Homo sapiens: one gene and its partner. The protein of the gene in region 2 interacts with the protein of the main gene of each other region in a pairwise test. Each region holds a gene or a part of one and is shown on either strand. Other genes may lie near its edges. The genes, in order: GIT2 and RCVRN.

Region 1 (3,815 bases), on a different chromosome or scaffold from region 2:
TGCCTGTAAAGGTGGTCCCTTACCCACAGCCACCTTCCTCCTCTTACCTTACATTACCCTTCCATTAAAAAAGAGATGGAGCCAGAACTGGGACGTGGATTTCAAAGCCTATGCCCTTTCCACGGCTTTCCCAGGTTGTGGTCATGTACCACTCTTTATGCATGAAAGTATTTTTTAATTGACAGTGCCTTTGGGAGCAGGGGCTGTGCCAGCTAAGTCCTTAGGACCCTTTCATTGACTTACCCAAACGCTGTGTATGGAGGAGGTGCTTAATACTTACTGCCTGACTACTCTAAAAGAGGCTTACCTGAATCATGCACTGCTATTGAGACCATAAATTATACACCAGTAGGTGAGGTTTAACCAACCCGTACAAGTGAACAGCTTTAGGTTAACAGCTGCTTGCATAGCTCCAATGCCACAAGGTGTTACAATTCTGATTCAAGATGCAGGGACTTGTAAACCTTGGTTTGTCAGCACTTGTGGTGCTGACATAAAATGTGTCACAGGTTAAAAAAAAAAAAAAAGGCATGACATTTTAGTACTTCAGCGAGTCCACATACAGCAGTTTCAATCTGACAACTGTAGCCCTGAACAAATTGAACAAATTTGGCCTATTATAATATCTAACCAGCAGCCAGCTAATTTTCTCGTTGTTTAAAAAAACAGTTTGCTCAGAATAAATGCTGTAGGGTGATTTGCAAACTTTGTTAAATATGACGTGAACATGAGCAGTATGGGGTTAGAGAAAGGGAGGCGCCCTCGATGGGTGAGCGTGCATGTGGACGAGTGTGAGCCTGATGCACTGTGAGAAACCAGGAGGAAGTGCTGCCTCATGCAGGACGGAAGGGCAGTTAGCAGGGACAGGAGGGCCAGAGCCCAAGCACAAAGCGCCCAGGAGCACGGCCCCTCCTCCAGAGAGCAGACCATTCAGAATGTACTTAACCCTTCGGGCGCTTTCGTCCCTCGACCAGGAAAGTGTGGAGGGGAAGGAAGGCAGAGATGAAGAGGAGGTCACAAGTGCACTCCTCCCGATCTGGAATGGGAAAGAGAAACACACTCGGGAAAATACAAAACAAACCAAAAACCTACCACCTTGCCAGCTTCAGTAAAAGAATCCTGGAACACCACACATTATGTGACGTGAGTGCTGCAATCTCAGTGGCCACCAGTGACAGGACCCCAGAGATGCTTAAACCCTTGGTGAAACACCTCCTGGAAATTACTCTGAATTTAATAAGGCTGCTTTTCCATAAGGGAAATACCTAACATAATTTGTCAAACTTGTCAATAATTTTTTAATGGATACTATGAAATGCATATTTGTTTTTCAATCAGGACTGATGTGAAATGAGAAACTATAAAAATGATTCTAAGTTGCTATACACTATCAATCTAATTTTTAGTACAATTACAGTGCCTTCCTGATATATCTTTATATTCTAATTTTTTCTAAAATAAGAAAGTACACTGAAAAATAACAAAGTTGCTTTTCCTAAATTTTGTCTTCAGCTATACAAAAATAAGATTCTTAACTTAGGGTGGGCATGGTAGCTCACACCTGTAATCCTAGCACTTTGGGAGGCTGAGGCGGGCGGATTGCCTGAGCTCAGGAGTTTGAGACCAGCCTGGGCAACATGATGAAACCCCGTCTCTACTAAAACAAAAAAATTAGCCAGGCACAGGACCATGTGCCTGTAGTCCCAGCTACTCAGGAGGCTGAGGCAGGAGAACTGCTTGAACCCAGGAGGTAAAGGTTGCAGTGAGCTGAGATCACACCACTGCACTCCAGCCTGGGTGACAGAGCGAGACTCCATCTCAAAAAAAAAAGATTCTTAACTTAGTTCAGTGGCATTCCCATTACATCAAATGTATCAAATCAATTGCCTTAGAATGTTAAACCCAAATATCTTAAAAAGAATCTGAGATAACAGACTCCCAATTATAGTAAAACAATATTGTAATTTTACCACACTGAAAATTGACAAAATTAAACTAGGGTTTAATTCACGAAACCATGTCCTTGCTTTGCATCTACCTTGAGAATTTTTTTGGAAACTCCCATAAAATTTGACTGAAGAAATAATAAACTTTGACACTCAAAAAGACAAATACTACTCTCTGAAAAAGCATCCCATGAAAAAGTTTAAATGTAACATCTTGGCAAAACACATATTTTTATAATAAAGTAATCCAGAAGAAATATATTTGAAAACCTTATAACACAGTATGTATCCCAATGCAAAATAAGATTGTAAGAACCCTGCTGCAGAACACAATCTCTGGAATTCAGCGCTTCTAAGACTGATGTAGAGTATTACATTTCCTTTTCTGAGACAACAAAGCCACACTTCCCCCACCACGGTGGGAGGAGCAGGATGCAGAAGCGAACCTAGCAGGCACACTGAGCACACATGGAGAGGCTGCGGAAGCCTGGAGCCTTCCAGCCTTGCCTGGGTACCTGGGCCACAGACTCAAGGCCACCTGCTTGAGGAGGAGCTGAAAAGACGTCTTGGATTCTAAGGGCTCCAGTACTTAAAGGGGCACATCCCTGTCTAGCTCCAAGAAGGCAACACTTCCTTCTGAGAGTGAACTTTATGATTTATTTTTGTTTTTGGAAGTAGAGAAGGAAGGAAGCTTTACCAAAAAAAGTTCCAACACTGGCTGGTTGAGAAATAATCATGGATGTGGGGGAGAAAAAAGCAGCAGTTCGGGCAAGAGCCAGAATCCCCAACTTGGTTAGGAAACCATCAGCCCATGGCCCTGTGTGCTTGTGGGAATATCGCAAGCATCTGTGGACATGTTAATACAGCAAACACAATGGTAACTCTCTTAGTCCAATTTGGCAAAGCAGAGCTGTGGGGACCTGTAGGTTCAGAAGAGGGAACAGAGTAGACAGGCTGCATAGAGTGAACAGCAGAAGCGCCAGTGGTGTTACTTACGTGCGCGGGGAAGGGCTGGAGTCTCATCCTGCTCTCTTCGGGGCGGCTCGCTTCTCCCATTGGGAGATATGGTTTCTGACCTGATCCGGTCTCGTACATGGACATGGGCCTACTGCCCCGGGCAGACGGACGTCTCTTTAAGGAAGAGTGGTTGGAAGTGTCTGTGTACTCAGAACCAGTTTGCACCTGATATACATTGGTTGTGGCCTGTTTCCTGAGGTTCGAATTTTCACTCTGGAGTGTTTGAAGCTGAAAGAAATGTTTGGCAGTGGGACTGTGTTTTTTTACAGCAAGCAGAAAAAGCAAACACCAAGTAAATGAATACAACTACCAGTTTTAAACAATAAGGACAGTAACAGCTAGCCGGGCTGAAAGTAAAAAGCCAATACAAACAAGGACCCTTTCTTCTGGATTGGGTGAAACACAATCAACTCCCTTCATCACGTAAGCAAATTAAATAGCTTCATTTCTGAATGTGGAAAAGTTGTGGTTTGGACTTCCTCAAAACAAAATGTCTAACCACTTTAAAATTTGTCATGGTGGGGCTGGGAAATGTTTGCAGGCAAGCTGTACACTGGATTATTACTAAGGCTGTTTCAAGCAAGAGTTCGAGATCATTAAAACATCATTTAGGTAACTTGCTTTTCAAATGAGCCCTGAGCAATTTGTAAAGGCCAAAAATGACAGCAGACACCATGGAAGCAGCACAAAGATGACTAGGGTTGCTTTGCAAAGCAAGAAAGACAGAAGTTCAGCTTGTGAAAAATCAGATCGCCTATTGCTTTCCAAAAAGCCAACAAGAAAAATTATGATCAACAAGTTTTTATTACATAATACTCTTGATATTCCAAACAATTCAGCACTTTGTAAAAA
Region 2 (3,541 bases):
ATTTGGGATCAGGACTGAGAGACAGCCTTGTTGCGCCCACACCTGGTTTTCCGGTGTTTTTAATCAGGTGGCTAACTGTATTCAGATCAGTCCAGTTAAATGCATGGTCCTGAGCCCAGATGCCACTGTGCTTGGAGCCAAGGCCACCACAGGGAGCGGAGGCGGGGTGTACAATAGAAGAGAGTGAGATGAAGTCCCTCCCTGGGAAACTGTTGACCTGGCGGGGAAGGCAGTCACACGCAGAAATACCTCTAGCATGAGACAGATGCTCCTTTCTGTTGTATGTTCACAGTGCCTAGCACAGAGTCGGTGCTCAACAAAGCTTTGCTGAACTGAATGTGATTTCTGACTTATGCTCTGGGCCTTTTGGATACCTTTAATCCCTTCTGGGTTAGGATCCAGGATGGCTTCCTCCGCAAGTCTGGGTGGTAAAATTTGGGTTTTAACATCCCAGCCACCCCACAGAGAGCTCACAGAGAGCTTGAAACTCCCACCATCAAAGCCTGACTCTGCCCTGAGGCATTGTCTCCAGATGGGCCGCGTGGAAACACGTACAACACATCACGAACAGGAGTAACACGTCGACCTCGGGGCTTCTGACGTCATCCCCTCCCGGGATGTTCACCAGGGAGGTTTTCAGATGAGCAAAAAGCAGAACACAGGGCTCGACACATGAACGGACCCAGAGGGAGGTCGCGAAGCCAGTTAAGGAGCCAGTGGGGCAAAGTGCCAAAAGAAGGCATCTTGGTAGCCAGTGTCTGTGCAAGGAGGAGAGAGTGCTCAAAGGTGAGGGGCCAATCCGGGCCGATGAGGGAAAGGTGGGTAAAGTACCAAGGCGCGAATTTAAGGAGGCGCTCACTTTCAGGTCCTGTGAGTGCATTGTTGACCCCTGAGAACGAGCGCCTCCTTAAATTCTGTGTCCTATGTTCCTCCTACCCCAATGACCTTCATGCTTCTCTTATTTCATCATTTGTTGGCAGATTAGGAGGAGCAGGGTCATCTCTCTCTGCCCTTATTTAGCATCCTGCTCAGCTTTTTCTTCTTGAACCTTGGCAGAAGACTGCCTCCAGAGGTCACCAAAGGGGTTAATACAGGACCCTTGGATGTGTTTGGGCCATGCTGTGTTTTATCAGTTGAGACACACTGGATTTTTAAAGTCTTCATGGCTGGCTTCTCTTAAAAAAAAATCAGATGATGTCTCAACCACGGGTTCCATAGCCCCACATGGAATATGCTGGAAGCCATCAGACCAGAGGTGCACCCTCTGCTGTTTGCCAATCCCCACTGCTTGTAGATGACTGTCCACATAACTCGTTTTCATCATTCCTGCCCCTCCAGCCATATGTGTTTGCAGCCCCAGCCTAATACCAGCTCCTTTACCGCATCCTTGTGCTGGCCGTAAGCATCACAGACACACAGCCCCAGCAGCCGAGTGCTGGAGTCCATCACTGCCTACAGTGCAGGATCACACTTCCTGGGGGCTGCTTCCAGCCACTGACTGACAGGGCAGGGGCACCAAGACTGACAGGGGCACTGAGGACACCCCATCGACTCTGTCAACACTTCCTCAGACTGCACTGCAGTCTCGGGCATTACTTACCTAATCTTCCTTTCTTTCCTAACCTTCCTTTCTTTCCTAACCTTCCTTTCTTTCCCTCTCTCCCTGCCAGGGGTCAGATCTGCTTGGCAGTCTGATAGCTTTCCCAGCCTCCTCTCGATCCCAGCCTGTTTTCCTTCTTCAGCCTTTCCTCCCATAAATCTCTTGCAATCTCATTTAAATCTAATCCTATCTTGGTGGTGTTTCTCAGAGGACCCAAACCAACTTCCCAAAGTAAAACCATAGAAATACAGATCCCACTGACTTGGGACTCGATATTAATTCAAAGCTAGGGTGAGCTGAAGTTTGCTCTTGTTCTAATTGCACAGAAAACAGTTTTGGCTCCTGCTCACCCTTAAGGCCATTCCCCTGTCCAACCCTTCAAACAGCTCTGAAAATGCACAATGGAATGAGGTGTCCCCCATCCTGCCTGGACACTGTGACTCAGAAGAATAAATCTTGTTGGGATTTCCAGGAAACAGCCCATGGTTGAAAAATCAAAGGCAATGAAGGAAAAGGAATTCACCATCATCATTCTTTCCAAAGTACTTCCAGATCTTCTCGGCTCGCTTTTCCGGCGTGTTTTCATCGTCTGGAAGGAGCTTCACGTCCTCGGGAGTGATCATTTTGAAAATAGCCTGTACCAAACAGAAAGAAAGAACTCGTTAGGAGGAACTTTAAGGGGCTGGCAACCCTGGAAAATCCACATCTTACACTGTACACAAAAATCTACTCAAAATGGATTAAAGACTTAAACATAAGACCTCAGACCGTCAAACTGCTGGAGGAAAACGTAGGGGAAAAGCTTCTTGGCACTGGTCTTGACGATAATTTTTTGGATATGACACCAAAAGCAAAGGCAACATAAACCAGAATAAACAAGCAGGATAGCATCACACTAAAGAGCTTCTCCATGTCAGAGGAAACAATGAACAAAATCAAAATGTAACTTATGGAATGGGAGAAAACATTCGCAAACCATTTGCGTTCTGCCTCCCCGGAGACACCTGTGAGCAGGTCAGGCAGGGGCAATAATGGCTGTGAAATTATCCTGGAGGGAAGGTCGACAGCTTTGAGAAGTTTCCCTTCAGCCCCCTGGTGCTGGATAAAGGAGTAAAGAGGCCAAAGCCACAGCCCAGGGCAGCAGCGTCGCTGGCAGCACTCAAAGCCCTGAGCTGGACGCCAGTGTAGGTGGCTCCTACACTCCTATCCATCTGTGCAGGGCCTTGGGCACCATGTGCAGGTGTGCCAGCTAGAAGCTGGCAGTGAGTGCCTGCCCACCCCACTTCCAACACGGAGGGACAGACCTCCAGAGCCTCAGGAAAGACTGCAAAAATAATCAAATCCTCACCCTGGGCCCAGGAAGGTTATATGGTTTTCCCACAGCAACACTGCTAGTTGGAGTCAGAGCTGGGACTAGAACCCTTCACTTTTAACTCCCTCAGTCAGTGCTCTGCCCATGAACTTGTAATCTGGTGAATAGCAGAGCCTTCTGCCACCTTGCACAGCCCCAGCCATTGATGGAGTCTCCCTCCCTCCCTTTCCTTTCTTCTTTCTTCCTTTCTCTCCTCCTTTCCTTCTCCTCCCTCCCTTCCTTCTCTCCTTCCCCTTGCTTCCCCCTCTTTCCTTCCTGACTCCTACCTTCCCTCTCTCCCTCCCTCATTTCCCCCTCCTCCCTTTCCTCCTCCTTTTATTCAATGAGTATCAATTTGTAGGCTTCTGCTGGGCCCTGCATTGTTTATGCCACTCTGAAGACTTAGTCCCTGTCCCAGGCCACCCAGAGACCCCACAGCCAATCCGAGGGAGCTTTCTCTGCAGGCTGTGCCAAGATAACAATGAGAGAGACACATGCCTGCCAGAATGGGAGGCCCGAGCTGAGCATTGAGGATAAGCCCATGGACCACAAGCTGCATGCTCTGCTGTTTTATTTATGATTTCTCCTAA

The links.
Region 1: the proteins of RCVRN (region 2) and GIT2 interact in a two-hybrid assay, tested with the Homo sapiens proteins (one large-scale study listed by BioGRID and IntAct).

The regions. Positions count from the first base shown.
Region 1 is NC_000012.12:109,944,314-109,948,128, forward strand, and holds part of GIT2 (ARF GTPase-activating protein GIT2), read right to left. Parts: exon of another isoform or gene 3,192-3,815; coding exon 2,943-3,191; intron 1,037-2,942; coding exon 947-1,036; intron 1-946. UniProt on the Homo sapiens protein: GTPase-activating protein for ADP ribosylation factor family members, including ARF1.
Region 2 is NC_000017.11:9,898,866-9,902,406, forward strand, and holds part of RCVRN (recoverin), read right to left. Parts: intron 2,236-3,541; coding exon 2,124-2,235; intron 1-2,123. UniProt on the Homo sapiens protein: Acts as a calcium sensor and regulates phototransduction of cone and rod photoreceptor cells. Modulates light sensitivity of cone photoreceptor in dark and dim conditions.